4 separate regions of the Homo sapiens genome follow, and regions 2, 3 and 4 are each linked to region 1. Evidence: fine-mapped expression QTL. A gene starts in region 1. Each other region holds a variant in brackets. All regions are shown on one strand. Distances are from middle to middle. Region 1 holds the start of F5 (coagulation factor V). Region 2 overlaps F5 (coagulation factor V). Region 3 overlaps F5 (coagulation factor V). Region 4 overlaps F5 (coagulation factor V).

The links. PIP is the estimated chance that this variant, and not a neighbour inherited with it, causes the effect. A credible set is the group of variants that fine-mapping cannot tell apart.
Region 2: its variant is the best candidate, but not a certain one, in a credible set for the expression of F5 in blood mononuclear cells (TOPMed, PIP 0.57).
Region 3: its variant is the best candidate, but not a certain one, in a credible set for the expression of F5 in whole blood (INTERVAL, PIP 0.64).
Region 4: its variant is the best candidate, but not a certain one, in a credible set for the expression of F5 in whole blood (INTERVAL, PIP 0.58).

Annotation. Positions count from the first base shown.
Region 1 is chr1:169,584,071-169,588,237 of GRCh38, reverse strand. F5 (coagulation factor V) reads left to right here and starts at 1,757. Exons shown (of 25, transcript NM_000130.5): 1 at 1,757-2,009. The coding sequence starts at 1,852. RefSeq lists enhancers at 1,282-1,781, 1,782-2,283.
Region 2 is chr1:169,527,912-169,532,078 of GRCh38, reverse strand. F5 (coagulation factor V) reads left to right here. Exons shown (of 25, transcript NM_000130.5): 15 at 1,057-1,293; 16 at 2,261-2,471; 17 at 3,985-4,164. Among named protein-coding and RNA genes, the nearest start is that of SLC19A2, 44 kb to the right of the region's middle. RefSeq lists an enhancer at 304-473. The variant A/G (reference allele first, on the strand shown) is at 2,342.
Region 3 is chr1:169,540,424-169,544,590 of GRCh38, reverse strand. F5 (coagulation factor V) reads left to right here. Exons shown (of 25, transcript NM_000130.5): 12 at 83-295; 13 at 1,477-4,167. Among named protein-coding and RNA genes, the nearest start is that of F5, 44 kb to the left of the region's middle. The variant A/G (reference allele first, on the strand shown) is at 2,274.
Region 4 is chr1:169,557,526-169,561,692 of GRCh38, reverse strand. F5 (coagulation factor V) reads left to right here. Exons shown (of 25, transcript NM_000130.5): 4 at 927-1,139; 5 at 2,397-2,540. Among named protein-coding and RNA genes, the nearest start is that of F5, 27 kb to the left of the region's middle. The variant T/G (reference allele first, on the strand shown) is at 1,900.

The DNA.
Region 1 (4,167 bases):
TTCCCCTGGGAATTCTGATGGTCTGCCAACTTTGGGAGACACTGATAATATTGTAGATAAAGAAGTGTAAGCAACTGTTCAGTTAGGGAGACAATAGATACCTGCATGGAATAACAAAAGGTAATTAACATGATTATATAATTTGAATAGTGTTGTAATAGTTCATAAAATGGAAAAGCCAATTTGAGCCCAGAATCTGGGAGATAGGCAGAACTCTGGACTGTAAAGAATGGCCCAGCAAAGAGGAAGAAAATGGGCATTCTAAGTTGGTGCAATAATATCAGCACAGGAGAAAAGACAGAATATTGGGGGGAGTGGGGAGGGAGGAAGAGGCTGTTGATGAGCCTGATATCATTAACAGAGACCTCATGTGAGGTGCCAGATTACAATTTATTGAATGTACTGAATGCATAAAGCATAAGACAGAAACCTGGAGCCATGCAGATACAGGGAACCCAGGACAAGTCATTATGATGCCTCAGACAATATAATTCGCAGATTCTCTATCAATAGCAAAGTAAGATTTAAGGTGCTGTGAAACAGTCAGATCCTTCAAGAAAAACAAGAATACAAGGGGTCCTGGAGACAGGAAAATATGATCATAATAATAAATTTGTGATTCCTTCTTTCTCTCTTTTTCTCTTTCTTTCTTTTTCTTTCTTTCTTTTTTTTTTTTGATGGAGTTTTGCTCTCGTTGCCCAGGCTGGAGTAAAATGGCATGATATCAGCTCACTGCAAACTCCACCTTCCAGGTTCAAGCAATTCTCTTGCCTCAATCTCTCGAGTAGGTGGGATTACAGGTGTCCACCACAACGCCCGGCTAATTTTTTATATTTTTAGTAGAGAAGGGTTTCACCATGTTGGCCAGGCTGGTCTTGAACTCCTGACCTCAGGTGATTCACCCGCCTTGGCCTCCCAAAGTACTGGGATTACAGGCGTGAGCCACTGCGCCTAGCCTCTGTGTGTTAAGTGCTGGAACTATAGTTTACAGTAGCATTTTATCCTCCCAACATACCCTATCAGGAAAAATTATTATTGTCATCCTTATTTCACAGATGTCAAAACTGAACAGAGAGGTACAGTAACTTGCCCAAGACAACACAGCTAGTAAGTGAAACTGAAATCTGGACAACTGATTTTTTTCAGCCAAGCTCTTCAAGCCCGCTGCTATGCTGCAGCTTAGCTGGCGACAGGCCCTTATCAAGGCAGAACTGTGCCTTGATAGAGGCCAGGAAGGCGATTCAGAGCAGTAGGCCTTGTCCATGTGTTTGTTCCCTGCTTCTTCACCACTTGAAAATAGTGTTTCAGTGCCCAGTAACAGGGCACAATACTCTTTTCCTCAGATTAAAAGGGGAGCCATCTGCTTAAGGTGGTTGGGTGCCACTGCACTGCACAGAAGGTTCTCCAAGTGTGAGCTTGGACCCAGGCAGGCCTCAGGTCAGTGGTAACGGACGACTGCTTCCGTGGTGTTGGCAGGTGGAAATGGAGGGATACAGCTTTGTCCGGCTCATGAATCCCTGGGCATTGTCCCGCCTGCTAGAGCCTCTGATCTCTGCCCCTTCTTCACCTGCAGTAAAACAGTCACTAGTTTGGTTGCTCTCCCTAATACCTCTGGTCACTGGGAGCTGTGATCTCACCAAACCCCTGCCAGGAAAAGCCCCAGAAAAAGCGGAGGGAGTGAGAGCCAGAGGCTGCTGCTGCCGTTTGCAAGAACTGCAGGGGAGGAGGACGCTGCCACCCACAGCCTCTAGAGCTCATTGCAGCTGGGACAGCCCGGAGTGTGGTTAGCAGCTCGGCAAGCGCTGCCCAGGTCCTGGGGTGGTGGCAGCCAGCGGGAGCAGGAAAGGAAGCATGTTCCCAGGCTGCCCACGCCTCTGGGTCCTGGTGGTCTTGGGCACCAGCTGGGTAGGCTGGGGGAGCCAAGGGACAGAAGCGGCACAGCTAAGGCAGTTCTACGTGGCTGCTCAGGGCATCAGTTGGAGCTACCGACCTGAGCCCACAAACTCAAGGTAACTCAGGTGTGGAGTCCGGGTGGGCTTCTCTAGAGAGGAAAATCTATTTCTTTTAGAGAACATTCCCTTTGCAATGTCATGGCTTTTTTTTTTTTTAACTTCAGGTAAGTAAATATAACTAATAGGAGAGTATACTGAATTAAATAAACTGGGCAAATGCTAATTTTGCATCCAACAATGTAGTTTATCATTCTGAGGGTTTAGAAAGCACCCTATTTGATTGGTTAGATGCTACCTTCTTTTCAAGTTTATTTTCAATACAGTTTTGTTAGTATGTTTGTGTTGGCTTATATATTGGTTAATTCAAAGGCACCAGGCACTTGCTCCCTCATTAGCCCTTCCTGCAAACTCCTGTTCCAGATTTTTAGTTGTATAGTATTTTTATGAGACTCCTAGTTACATATTATTTATTCCATTGTCTACATAGCTTCATCTTCTAAAACTAAAAATGAACACCTTGTGCTTTTTGTCATATAATTTTATTGCTGCCTTATAAATGACTTTCAAAATATCATCAGTTCTTGTATGTTTTTGTACTTTCACCTTTTTTCTGCTTCATATTTGACTTATTTATCCTATTGAATGTGACTCTTCATTTTTTTTTCTCTCTGTTCATCATGTCCTGGGATATGGTTTACCTTGGCTACTTAAAGGCATATGTAACTGAGAGGAGGTTTAATTCAGATAAAATACTATCCTTGAGTTGCAAACTATTTTTTCTAATTGAAATGTTAAAAATAAGACTTCTCAGAAATTAACTAAATCATACAGTCTATTCAATATTTCCAGTTAGTTATTTTTTAAATGGTAAACCTGCTAGTGTGACTCACTTTTTTTCCTTACATCACACTTCATTATGAAAGATGTGTTCCTCTTTTACAATTACAAAACCAAAGTAATCTGCCAAAAAATAATGTAATATTTTGAGATCTTTTAGTGTATAATATTAACCTTTTTAAAACTCTCATTGTAACTGGGTTATTTTGGAGGGTATTACATACCATCTTGGTCTTATAATAAGAAGAGATCCCTCCTTCTCAAAAATAATCATTTTAAATATCGTACTTCAAAGTGATAATCTAGGTCACACCCACACCCTTTGGGAACTGCCGTAAGCTAAAACCCCAAGGAAAATAACAGTCCTTCTAACACTAATCTTGCCTGCTCATGAGTAGAATGCAGACTTGGTTGTTGGCTTTCTTGTAGCATGCTGGGTTCATGCTTGGGAGTTTTTTCTCTTGTCTGTAGTTAGCGTTGAAAATAACAAGCAAAATACCGGAGGCAGAACCAGATAGGGCAAAGGTCTGATTCACATGGTGAGTACACAGGGAACCATGACTGGTCATTCTGTCCCCTCATCCTGTGGGTAAGTTTCCAAAGTTCTGGAGATTCGTTCCTCTGGTAGGAATTGTTGAGTCAAAACCATAGAAACACAACCCAGACAAACTGTCATATTGTTTAACCCTAAATCATATCATTTCTCTCTAGCATTTTCTTATGAAAAATCTAATCCATATATCTGGCTGCTTAAACTAAGAACTTGTTCTAACTTGTCCTGCCCCTAGAGCTATGATACTCACTAGGTGAATATCAACATAGCCAACTCCATCTTTTGGCAAAGTGTATTTTAGCACAAAGCAGACATCTATCTACTTATTTCATATAATATTAGCAGGACAATGCCTTTTAAAGGTAAAATGTATCTATTATTCTTGCTCCAAGTCTAAGGTGAACACTTTCAAAAATTTCCTTAGAAAACTTGTTTAGTCACTCACATGTATACAAAGAGATATTGAAGAAAAGATATACATACATTTTCCTTCTAGGGTTCTAGCTTTATATGATTTTGTGATTATGAACAAATCATCTTTAAACAATCCTTATAAATGAAAAACTCGTCGTACACATTGTTTGAATTCATATGATCTGTAACTTTTTAATCAGATAGATTATTTTCCAATAGAAATTGTTCAGATCAAAATAGACATACCTCAGTATGAATACACAGCATACATAGTAAAAACATGTTAGGAAACATCTCTCTGTTGAAATTACTCCACGTAAGAGACTGATATTTTTTAGTAAAGATTTTACACCATCATCTACATTTCTGTATTAAAGATCTGGGGCAGGGGAGGACAATAACTTTTCAATT
Region 2 (4,167 bases), 56 kb after region 1:
GTTTATGTGGTGAATCACATTTATTGATTTGCATATGTGGAGCCACTTTGCATCCTAGGAATGAAGCCTATGTGATTGTGATGAATTAATTTTTAATTTGCTGCTGGATTTGGTTTGCCAATATTTTGTTGAAGATTTTTGTGTCTATGTACATCAGAGATATTGGCCGGTAGTTTTCATTATTCATTGTGTCTTTGCCAGGTTTTGTTATTAGGGTGATGCTGGCTTTGTAGAATAAAATAAGGAACAGACAATTAGGGAGTCTTTAATCACTAGAAGTTATAGAAGGGCTGGGAGGAGCTTCATGGGTCTGACTGCTGGGGTGTGAAGACTTCTCATATGGCATTTAAGTCCTTTACCATCTGGCCCCAACCTGCTCCTTTTCTAGCCTCATTTCTCACCAGGTTCCACCTGTCCCTGTGCATTTCACAGCCCAGTTCCACCGAGATCCTTGCTATTCCCCAAACTCTTCCTTTACTCCCCTGCTCACAGGCATCCTTCTGCCCTTCTGAGAGTCTGAAATGTCTTTCTAGCTCCTGTTCATTCTATGATGGCCAATTCCATTTCCTCTAAGAAACTTACCTTAATTCTTCCAACCACTCCTAAATATTCAACCAAATTGTTCCTCCAGGGCATTGTCATCTGAACCCACTTAGACTTTGTATATAGCACCTGTTGTCTCCAGATTTGTAGTGTGGATGCCCATGTGCATGTCTGTTTCAGCAGGAGCTTAAAAGCTTCTTATGAACAAGAATCAAGCTTCTTTCATCTTCACATCTCCACTACCTATCACTCTCATTTCATTAGTAGATAATGTCAGTACTTTAGCCTTGAGCCTAAGAACAAATATCTTTTGGTATTTCTGGAGAAAACTACTTGGGCCATATCTCACAGGATGGTTATGAAAATTAAATGAAATAATATACATAAGTTATTTTGTACCTTATATCTTAGCTCCGATTTTATAACCAGCCATTTTGACTTATAATGCTGACATTTTTGTGGTTTAGATTTTTGTTAAGCTTAAGTACATTTGTGGATCATTCCTTTTCCTAGGTTCGTTTTAAAAATTTAGCATCCAGACCGTATTCTCTACATGCCCATGGACTTTCCTATGAAAAATCATCAGAGGGAAAGACTTATGAAGATGACTCTCCTGAATGGTTTAAGGAAGATAATGCTGTTCAGCCAAATAGCAGTTATACCTACGTATGGCATGCCACTGAGCGATCAGGGCCAGAAAGTCCTGGCTCTGCCTGTCGGGCTTGGGCCTACTACTCAGCTGTGAACCCAGTAGGTACTTTCATTGAAAGTTTTTCTCATTCCCCTAACCTCGTAATCTGAAGTCCACCAAATGGAAGAGTCGGGGTTATTTCTTGTCAAATGTCTGTCTTGCTTTTCATGAGGAATGCATAAGGGTGTGGTTAACAGTCTGCATTTATCATAACCAGGGACTCTCCATGCAGCTCTTCAGATGACAGAGAGAGAAACATTTATTCAGTGGAGAGGAGGAAAGATTACTTGAATGATTGGCCATGAATTAGAATGCCTACATTTACAGAAGATGGCATTTATTTGAAATTTTCTTGAACAAGTATTAGCTATGTTCTGCTCTTTCTTTATGAAAAGAACTGCAAAGTCAAGACTCCTTTATCTGACATTCTGCAATGTATATATACTTCAAAACAATATGTCATACACAGTATATGCATACAATTTTATCTGTCAATTAAAAAGAGAAACAACTCCTCCATTTCAGGCATAGTGGAAAGAGCACAGACTCAGATTTAAATTTTTACCCTGTCAATGCATAATCCTAGGAAATTCCTTGACCTCTCTTAGCCTGGTATCAGAAGTTAAAAATGAGATAACAGTACATAGTGCATGGTAAGCACTTGGTAAATATTTGTTCAATGAATGAATTTATATTTACCATATAAGATAGTTGTCAGGATTAAATGGGAGATTGCAGGCAAATCATTTAATATAGTAATAGATTCTCAATAAATAGTATCCCTTATATTATCAATTTATTATTATCATCATTGTTACTGGGATAAAGATCAATCAGAGGAAGGAGGATTATGAATACAACAGAATTAGGTGATAAATATCCAGGCTTATTATGCCATTCATTTATAATCTTCATCTTCAAATTCAGAGCCTATCAGAAAGTTTCCTTTTCTATATGATGAGTGATTATCAGAAGAGCAAGGAAATTCCTGAGAAAGAGGCAATACAATTTACTCTGTTTTTCCAGGAAAAAGATATTCACTCAGGCTTGATAGGTCCCCTCCTAATCTGCCAAAAAGGAATACTACATAAGGACAGCAACATGCCT[A/G]TGGACATGAGAGAATTTGTCTTACTATTTATGACCTTTGATGAAAAGAAGAGCTGGTACTATGAAAAGAAGTCCCGAAGTTCTTGGAGACTCACATCCTCAGAAATGAAAAAATCCCATGAGTTTCACGGTATTTTCCTCAGACTTTGATCTAATCTCCTAATTAAATCACACTGGGTCACAGTGATTTCTGCCCTTAGATATTCACAAGATTAGACATGAGATGCTTCTGAGACACCCAGAGCTACAACTAAAACCGGTTCCTTAACATTCCAGAGGGCTGATGTAATCTGGCAGGTGACACTGTGGGTGAGGCAAAAAGAGAAAGTCTGAAAGATAGCACAGAGAAGCTGCTGCAAAACAAACCAACAGAAAACCACAACAACAAAAAGCCAGTGTGCTTCAGCTGGTAACATACATTGAAAAGGAATTAACATTGTTCTGCAATTTAAAGTTAATAAGCTTGTTTCTGGATCTCTAAAGGCACAAGTGTTTATATAAAAGAAATGATCACCTGTGTGTCTTTTCTAAAATAAGAATGACGCTAACAGTTTTAGCTCTCAGCAGCTACCAGGTGGCACCCAAAGCATATGAGAACAAAATGAGATAAGAAACTAGGTACCCAGGTAATAGGAGAATAGTGGCAAGAGAGCATTTGGGTGGTCACACTGGGAAAAGTGTGCCTATTTGGAAATTCACAAGGAAAATTTGCCCTGTAAGCTAGTAACTGAAACAGAAACTGAGAAGAGAAAGGTACGAGCTTGTGTTATGAATATGTAGATAGGTGTTCTCACGCCTGATATAATTTGAAGGATGCCCAAATGATCTCAACCCGTCCCTCTCCAAAAATTCACCTGCCTGGTTTCTGAAATTTCACAGCAGTTCCTCTAACTTAAGAAGGAGGAAACAAAGCACTTCCTTCACTTTGGTTTCAGTTAAACGTTTGGTAACACTAAACTTTATCTTTACAGTTTTGTGTTACATTTTTAAGGTGATCAAGTTTCTCAGGAACTTTTTAAAAAATCCGCGTATTTTACTGTGGGGAGAGTAGATAAAGCCTGAGAACCCTAGTTATCTAATCTGAGAAGTGGGCAGAGGAGTTGTCATACCAATAAGAGAATAAACATGACTTGCTATGGTTGCTGGATACACCAACGATAAACTCCTAATTTTATAAACTCCTAGACTTCCTAATTTGCCTGAAACTTTCTCTGAATTTAGAAGGCCTTAAGGTGACATGCTGCATATCTCCTTGCTGACTCTAATCCCTGGAGTTTACTTTGTCTGCCCATATTTGTATTTATCTTTTGTAGTTAAGGAAAATTAAGACTGTTAATGGAAAGTATACACGGGTAAAGCACGGAACTGTAAAAGCTGAGGAAAAGAGTGATAAACTGCTTGGAAAGGGAGTTCCCCCTGCCTTCTGCTGTAGGCTGGTGTGAATGATATGAGAAGGACTAGTGGTTCTGCTTTAGCCTCTCACTAATGTGACATACAAGAGGGCCCTTTCCATGGCTAGGTAGGCCTGGGAATGCAGAATCATGAGGAACATGGGTGTTGAGTGGGTTGCCCCATATTTCCTTACCACTCGCCCTCTCTGTGTCAACAGATTTTTAATTGATTTCAACTCTTTGTCCTTTCAGCCATTAATGGGATGATCTACAGCTTGCCTGGCCTGAAAATGTATGAGCAAGAGTGGGTGAGGTTACACCTGCTGAACATAGGCGGCTCCCAAGACATTCACGTGGTTCACTTTCACGGCCAGACCTTGCTGGAAAATGGCAATAAACAGCACCAGTTAGGGGTCTGGCCCCTTCTGCCTGGTA
Region 3 (4,167 bases), 44 kb after region 1:
GAGACATTTATCTTAGGTATAATTAGACACATGCCCTTTTGTTGGCATAGACTTGGAATTTTAACAGATTTTACACTTTCAGCTATCAATGGCTATGTGCCTGAGAGCATAACTACTCTTGGATTCTGCTTTGATGACACTGTCCAGTGGCACTTCTGTAGTGTGGGGACCCAGAATGAAATTTTGACCATCCACTTCACTGGGCACTCATTCATCTATGGAAAGAGGCATGAGGACACCTTGACCCTCTTCCCCATGCGTGGAGAATCTGTGACGGTCACAATGGATAATGTTGGTGAGTAAGAGTCTGGACACTCACAGAGGAAGCTTGCTTTGAATTTCTGGTCTATAAAGGTCTGCTGCAACTCTCCAGGCTACCAGTGCTCCTCTATGTATCTCCCTGACCCCCTGCAGGCTTTTCTTTCAATGTTTCTCATGATTTCTCTTTGAGAAATTAATGACTTAAATGGATCCAGTTCTTTAGTGTGGGTTATATTTTTCCTTCTCTGGGCAAAGTAGGAAGTAAAAATATACAACAGCAGAAAAATAAGGCATAACTCTGAGGAAGAAGCATAAATATTTTGGCCACAAAAGAGCATTTCTTTTATCAAAATGCCCTATTCGGTTTTTTGCAACAGTCATCTTCAATCATCAGGTACAGTGCCTTAAAGGCTGCTTCAGCAACAGCTTTGGAGTTTGTCAGACTGGAATGCAAGTCCTGATCTGCCAATCGATTGCTGTGTAACCTTACACAAGTTACTTGGCCACACTGAGCCACAAGTCATTTATCTGGAAAACAGTGTAATCACATCTCACAGAGTTACTTTGACCATTAAAATAGTAATATGCGCCAAGTGCCTAGCACTCAGTAGACACCAACAATGGTAACTATTGGAGACTCACCAAGAAATCTTTGATGTTCCAGCAATGCATGCCATTTCAGAGATTCAAAATTGTCCTCGTGAATTATTACTTAGAAACATCTAAATGTCTCTTATTTGTGGGGATAGAGCTCATCACCATCCCTTTAATTCTAAGACAAGATGTGCTGTTAGGATATTTATGATATTAAAAGTCCATTTTATTCTTGATTCATCCCTTTCTTAATATATTTTAAAATAGTGAGCAACTATCTGTGCTGAAAGACCTTTTTTCCCCTCTAATCTCCACTAAGCAACACTTTTGTTTTTTATTCTGTTAAGCGAGATGAACGCACTGGTCATGTGCTTAGAGTCACAGCAATGTCAAATTGCTTTAGAAAAACAAAAGTTTACTAAATATTTCATTCTCATTTTTCTCTCCTTGTGTTATTTTGACCCAGTAATCAATAGGTCACAGACAAGCAGTGGTCCACAGCCCATACTTGAATATTCCTGACGAAAGTTTATTAGAAATTACCTGCCACAATGGATTATTGTGTTTTCATGTCTTTTCCCAGACTTCCAGATCTCTCTTCTGTCTGTCTCTCTTCTGTAGGAACTTGGATGTTAACTTCCATGAATTCTAGTCCAAGAAGCAAAAAGCTGAGGCTGAAATTCAGGGATGTTAAATGTATCCCAGATGATGATGAAGACTCATATGAGATTTTTGAACCTCCAGAATCTACAGTCATGGCTACACGGAAAATGCATGATCGTTTAGAACCTGAAGATGAAGAGAGTGATGCTGACTATGATTACCAGAACAGACTGGCTGCAGCATTAGGAATCAGGTCATTCCGAAACTCATCATTGAATCAGGAAGAAGAAGAGTTCAATCTTACTGCCCTAGCTCTGGAGAATGGCACTGAATTCGTTTCTTCAAACACAGATATAATTGTTGGTTCAAATTATTCTTCCCCAAGTAATATTAGTAAGTTCACTGTCAATAACCTTGCAGAACCTCAGAAAGCCCCTTCTCACCAACAAGCCACCACAGCTGGTTCCCCACTGAGACACCTCATTGGCAAGAACTCAGTTCTCAATTCTTCCACAGCAGAGCATTCCAGCCCATATTCTGAAGACCCTATAGAGGATCCTCTACAGCCAGATGTCACAGGGATACGTCTACTTTCACTTGGTGCTGGAGAATTCAAAAGTCAAGAACATGCTAAGCATAAGGGACCCAAGGTAGAAAGAGATCAAGCAGCAAAGCACAGGTTCTCCTGGATGAAATTACTAGCACATAAAGTTGGGAGACACCTAAGCCAAGACACTGGTTCTCCTTCCGGAATGAGGCCCTGGGAGGACCTTCCTAGCCAAGACACTGGTTCTCCTTCCAGAATGAGGCCCTGG[A/G]AGGACCCTCCTAGTGATCTGTTACTCTTAAAACAAAGTAACTCATCTAAGATTTTGGTTGGGAGATGGCATTTGGCTTCTGAGAAAGGTAGCTATGAAATAATCCAAGATACTGATGAAGACACAGCTGTTAACAATTGGCTGATCAGCCCCCAGAATGCCTCACGTGCTTGGGGAGAAAGCACCCCTCTTGCCAACAAGCCTGGAAAGCAGAGTGGCCACCCAAAGTTTCCTAGAGTTAGACATAAATCTCTACAAGTAAGACAGGATGGAGGAAAGAGTAGACTGAAGAAAAGCCAGTTTCTCATTAAGACACGAAAAAAGAAAAAAGAGAAGCACACACACCATGCTCCTTTATCTCCGAGGACCTTTCACCCTCTAAGAAGTGAAGCCTACAACACATTTTCAGAAAGAAGACTTAAGCATTCGTTGGTGCTTCATAAATCCAATGAAACATCTCTTCCCACAGACCTCAATCAGACATTGCCCTCTATGGATTTTGGCTGGATAGCCTCACTTCCTGACCATAATCAGAATTCCTCAAATGACACTGGTCAGGCAAGCTGTCCTCCAGGTCTTTATCAGACAGTGCCCCCAGAGGAACACTATCAAACATTCCCCATTCAAGACCCTGATCAAATGCACTCTACTTCAGACCCCAGTCACAGATCCTCTTCTCCAGAGCTCAGTGAAATGCTTGAGTATGACCGAAGTCACAAGTCCTTCCCCACAGATATAAGTCAAATGTCCCCTTCCTCAGAACATGAAGTCTGGCAGACAGTCATCTCTCCAGACCTCAGCCAGGTGACCCTCTCTCCAGAACTCAGCCAGACAAACCTCTCTCCAGACCTCAGCCACACGACTCTCTCTCCAGAACTCATTCAGAGAAACCTTTCCCCAGCCCTCGGTCAGATGCCCATTTCTCCAGACCTCAGCCATACAACCCTTTCTCCAGACCTCAGCCATACAACCCTTTCTTTAGACCTCAGCCAGACAAACCTCTCTCCAGAACTCAGTCAGACAAACCTTTCTCCAGCCCTCGGTCAGATGCCCCTTTCTCCAGACCTCAGCCATACAACCCTTTCTCTAGACTTCAGCCAGACAAACCTCTCTCCAGAACTCAGCCATATGACTCTCTCTCCAGAACTCAGTCAGACAAACCTTTCCCCAGCCCTCGGTCAGATGCCCATTTCTCCAGACCTCAGCCATACAACCCTTTCTCTAGACTTCAGCCAGACAAACCTCTCTCCAGAACTCAGTCAAACAAACCTTTCCCCAGCCCTCGGTCAGATGCCCCTTTCTCCAGACCCCAGCCATACAACCCTTTCTCTAGACCTCAGCCAGACAAACCTCTCTCCAGAACTCAGTCAGACAAACCTTTCCCCAGACCTCAGTGAGATGCCCCTCTTTGCAGATCTCAGTCAAATTCCCCTTACCCCAGACCTCGACCAGATGACACTTTCTCCAGACCTTGGTGAGACAGATCTTTCCCCAAACTTTGGTCAGATGTCCCTTTCCCCAGACCTCAGCCAGGTGACTCTCTCTCCAGACATCAGTGACACCACCCTTCTCCCGGATCTCAGCCAGATATCACCTCCTCCAGACCTTGATCAGATATTCTACCCTTCTGAATCTAGTCAGTCATTGCTTCTTCAAGAATTTAATGAGTCTTTTCCTTATCCAGACCTTGGTCAGATGCCATCTCCTTCATCTCCTACTCTCAATGATACTTTTCTATCAAAGGAATTTAATCCACTGGTTATAGTGGGCCTCAGTAAAGATGGTACAGATTACATTGAGATCATTCCAAAGGAAGAGGTCCAGAGCAGTGAAGATGACTATGCTGAAATTGATTATGTGCCCTATGATGACCCCTACAAAACTGATGTTAGGA
Region 4 (4,167 bases), 27 kb after region 1:
GAGAAATTCTGTCACCAGCTGATGATAGGGAATCTTTCACCTAATTAAATGAGGAATTCCTCAGGCAGAGGAAACTGTTCATTCCACTTGGCTCTCTATGGCACTCACCTCTCCCCTTCCTGACCTCACTTGCTCCATTTTATTATTGAAAACCTCACCCAACCCTCTACACTTCTTTTAATATTGAGTATCTCAGTTCCTTCTCTTCAATAAAGAAGACCAATTTCTTCATCCTCTCCCTCTCCTATCAGTAGGGAAAGTCCAATATACATGGAGGTGTTAATGATGTGTCTTTGGGTGCACAAAGTACAAAGTAAGACATCTAAGTTTCAGGGGATGGACACATTTCATATTCATACAGACAACCAGCCTGCATAGGGGAGTTAGACGCTGTGGCTCGGGGGAAAAAATTGAGATAATCAGATGGCTAAGATGAAATAAAGAGATAAAACAAAGCTGAGGATCACAGCAGTTGGAAAGAAGATCTGAAATAGCAAAACAAAATAATACATAAACAGCTCTGACTATCCTCCCATCTCATGTTAATAGGCTAAGTATGTCTTATTAAACACCACAAAGAAGATATCACCCATTCTTATATTCTGAGATGGTTTACTAATCAAAGGCGATTCAATTCTCTGATTATATTTAAATAATAATTGTTCAGGTACCCTGGAAAATTAACTTGCTAAACTTTAATTTACAAATAACATTTGTTATTCTTAAGATCACCATGTTATCAAAGCCTTTGTAAGTACATGAGCATAGAAATGGGCATATGTGAATCTTTCCAAATAATAAAAGTTCACTATTGAAGGACATATGCATCTCCAGAGAACTCATCTTAGCTATCCCCAGATTTGAGAGTGGTGAAAACGCAATCCTCAGAAACTGCCCACATGTCTTGATGGCTGTTACTCCTCCAGGTGCTTCTTACCTTGACCACACATTCCCTGCGGAGAAGATGGACGACGCTGTGGCTCCAGGCCGAGAATACACCTATGAATGGAGTATCAGTGAGGACAGTGGACCCACCCATGATGACCCTCCATGCCTCACACACATCTATTACTCCCATGAAAATCTGATCGAGGATTTCAACTCGGGGCTGATTGGGCCCCTGCTTATCTGTAAAAAAGGTAAGAACACCCCCACCAAAAGATTCAACAACTAAATGTTGGAATGGTCAGGAGTTCTGTCATGGGACAAAGCTTGGGAGCATCTTGGTAACTTCTTGTACATCAAGCAGAGGAAGACGGCACGGAGACCAGATCATTGTTTGACAAGAGAAAAAAACACCTGCTATTTCAGGGTGTGGATCCACCTCTGTTTCTTCTCATTCCTCCTTCATCTCAGTCCTTAAGGTTCTCCCAGGCAAATTCCTGTTTGAGAGTATGTTCTGATGTCATGCTTGTATGATCTGTAACATTTACCTCAAGGCCAAAGTCTTTTAGAAAGTATACAGTAGCCTATACTCTGCTGAAAGAGCTCTTGGAAAGAACTTTGGCTAACATGTTTGACATATCTGAGGTTTGGGCTGGTAATTTGCTCTATAAACACGTGAAATGCCAGCTTCCTTTCTTACAAACAAGTTGAAAACTTTGGGTGGTAGGTTTCAAACACACTCAAGTGACTTTACAAGAACTTTTATTGGCTGGGCTTCTTAGGAGCAAGCTTGGATTTTCATTTTATCCCATGAGAATCCAGCCCATCTTTCATTAAAACAAACAACCACAGTGAGCCACAGCATGGGAAATAACGTGATGGACTCACCATCTGCCTATACATACACGCTCAGGCCATACCTACATACATGCCCAATGTATTTACTCATTATACAAAGACTTTTTTTCCATTTCCTGGTATATATAAGATACTGTGATGGTACTGAAAAAAACC[T/G]TAAAACTTACAAAAGACTCTTCTTGCATTTTACCATCAGCAGCATGTTTTTCTCATAGTGAGAATGGATTAATGCTGATACTTCCACCCAATTATCTAATGCCCCCTTTCATATACAAATAAGATGACAGCATTAAACTTGGGGCATGATGCTTTTACCAACTGAGCTAACGTATCTATATACTCTTCTATTGAGACTGGGGGAAATGGATACTTGTACAGAGTCTTGAGAGTCACCAAATGTTTTCTTCCCAAGCTGGATGAAATAAAGCCTGTTCCCCAAAGCAAGAAGGTATCAAAGAAGACAGTGTGGCACCAGATTTTAAATAACCCTAGAACCATTATTACTTGATAAATATGCTATTTTAAAAAATAAGAATTTCTTCAAGTTGAAATCATTATGGTTGATTGCTTGCCCTAAACTCTTTGCTATCCAGGAAAGCTAATGAGCGTCTTCTATCTGCAGTGCTACTGAAAACATGTCTTTCCTTTCATAGGGACCCTAACTGAGGGTGGGACACAGAAGACGTTTGACAAGCAAATCGTGCTACTATTTGCTGTGTTTGATGAAAGCAAGAGCTGGAGCCAGTCATCATCCCTAATGTACACAGTCAATGGATATGTGAATGGGACAATGCCAGGTAACACGAGGGCTGTGTACCATTAAACAACAGTAAAATCATTAGTAATTTTTCGGTCCTGTTTTCTTCAAAGCACTAGAGAAGTTGACCATACTCACTGTTTTGCAACTCCCTATCAAGAAGGAAATATTTTCTCTTTTTTTTTTTAAACAGGAAATAGAAGAGACAAATTAGAAGCTAGAGAAGAAATGTGCAGCCTTGTTAGGTATAGTGACCTGAGTAGGTTTCACCTTGGCCTGTACTTTGAATAAGACCTTAAGGTATCAGCTCAGCCACTCTCTCCGAGTTCTGCAGTTCCTCTATATGATGACCATGGCTTCTTCAAGGACAAGCCCTAGCAGGAAGGATCAGCAGGAAGATTGCAGTAAAGATGAACAGATTAGGAGTAATCCTCAACACACAAAAAAAACCAGCATTTCAAAAGGTGACAGAAGAGTAATATTCAGTGGCATCTAGAATATTTTCTCTTTCCATTTGCATTTGGGCACTTATGAGAAGGCAAAATCATAGCAATCGTTAAGAGAAAAAATAACTAATTCCCACTTAGACCACATCTCTTCTATTTCTCTCTGGTAGAACTGACCTACAACTAAAGATCCAGGGTATATGATACTAGCCTGAGGGAAAAACATTAAAAAATTAAAATGCCACTTTACTAAATAAACCATATTTCAAAACACTAAACTTCTTAGAGGTTATTCTCTAATGCCATCTGAAAATCACAAATAGCTTCACTTACTAAAACACAAATATTGTTAAGAGTTGAGATCTGGGTAGTGTTTTTAAATTGTATTCTATTTCATTTGACTACATTTTCCACTTGGTTTTCTGAAAATATACTCATATGACTCTCAATGTTGATCCCAAGTTCCAATACTAGGAGCTTGTAAAAACTGGGGCTTAGTTAACTGACCTCGACCTTAGATAATCTGAGTTCAGACTTCAGATTATCAGACTACCTTCTGTGGCCCTGGATAAATTAGTTGTCTCAATGTGCTTACTTACAAAAGTGGACTAACCATTTATCCTAACATCTATTTCCTGGCAGAGTGAACAATCTGTATAAGTATATGGATGCCAAGAAAAGCAAAACCATATGCACAAAAATAAAAATAAATTGATCTGAGCTTAGAGTTTACGAATTTATAGTTCCCAAAAGAATAATTGGGGGTAAATGGGACAAGGTAGGGAAAGACCATCAGTAGAAACTAAGAATAGTAAACATTTGTAAAAACCCTCTGCCTTATAAAGCAGAATAAATTGAATACATATGATAAATGCTAACACAGATATGTTAATTGCTGAACTCAATATAAGCATTTCTTTGGCATGGATAAACGCTTCCACCAAAGCCTCCTAGTGATGCAAGGAATCCTGGCTTTGTTGCAATGGTCTCCTAAAAAAAACAAGCCTTTGTGTGGGTAAGGAACTGATTCTCAGGCCCATTATCTAGTATCTAGTGATTATGTATCTGAGATGTAAAACAGAAACCTAAAAGCCAAGGATGGAGTCTCCCCACAGAGCAAATGAGCATTTTCCCAGTGACTGTAGGAGCAAAGAAGGAGCAAAACTAAGTTTTTATATTCAGTTATCACTACTCCTTCCATGAAAAGCTCCCAATGGCTCA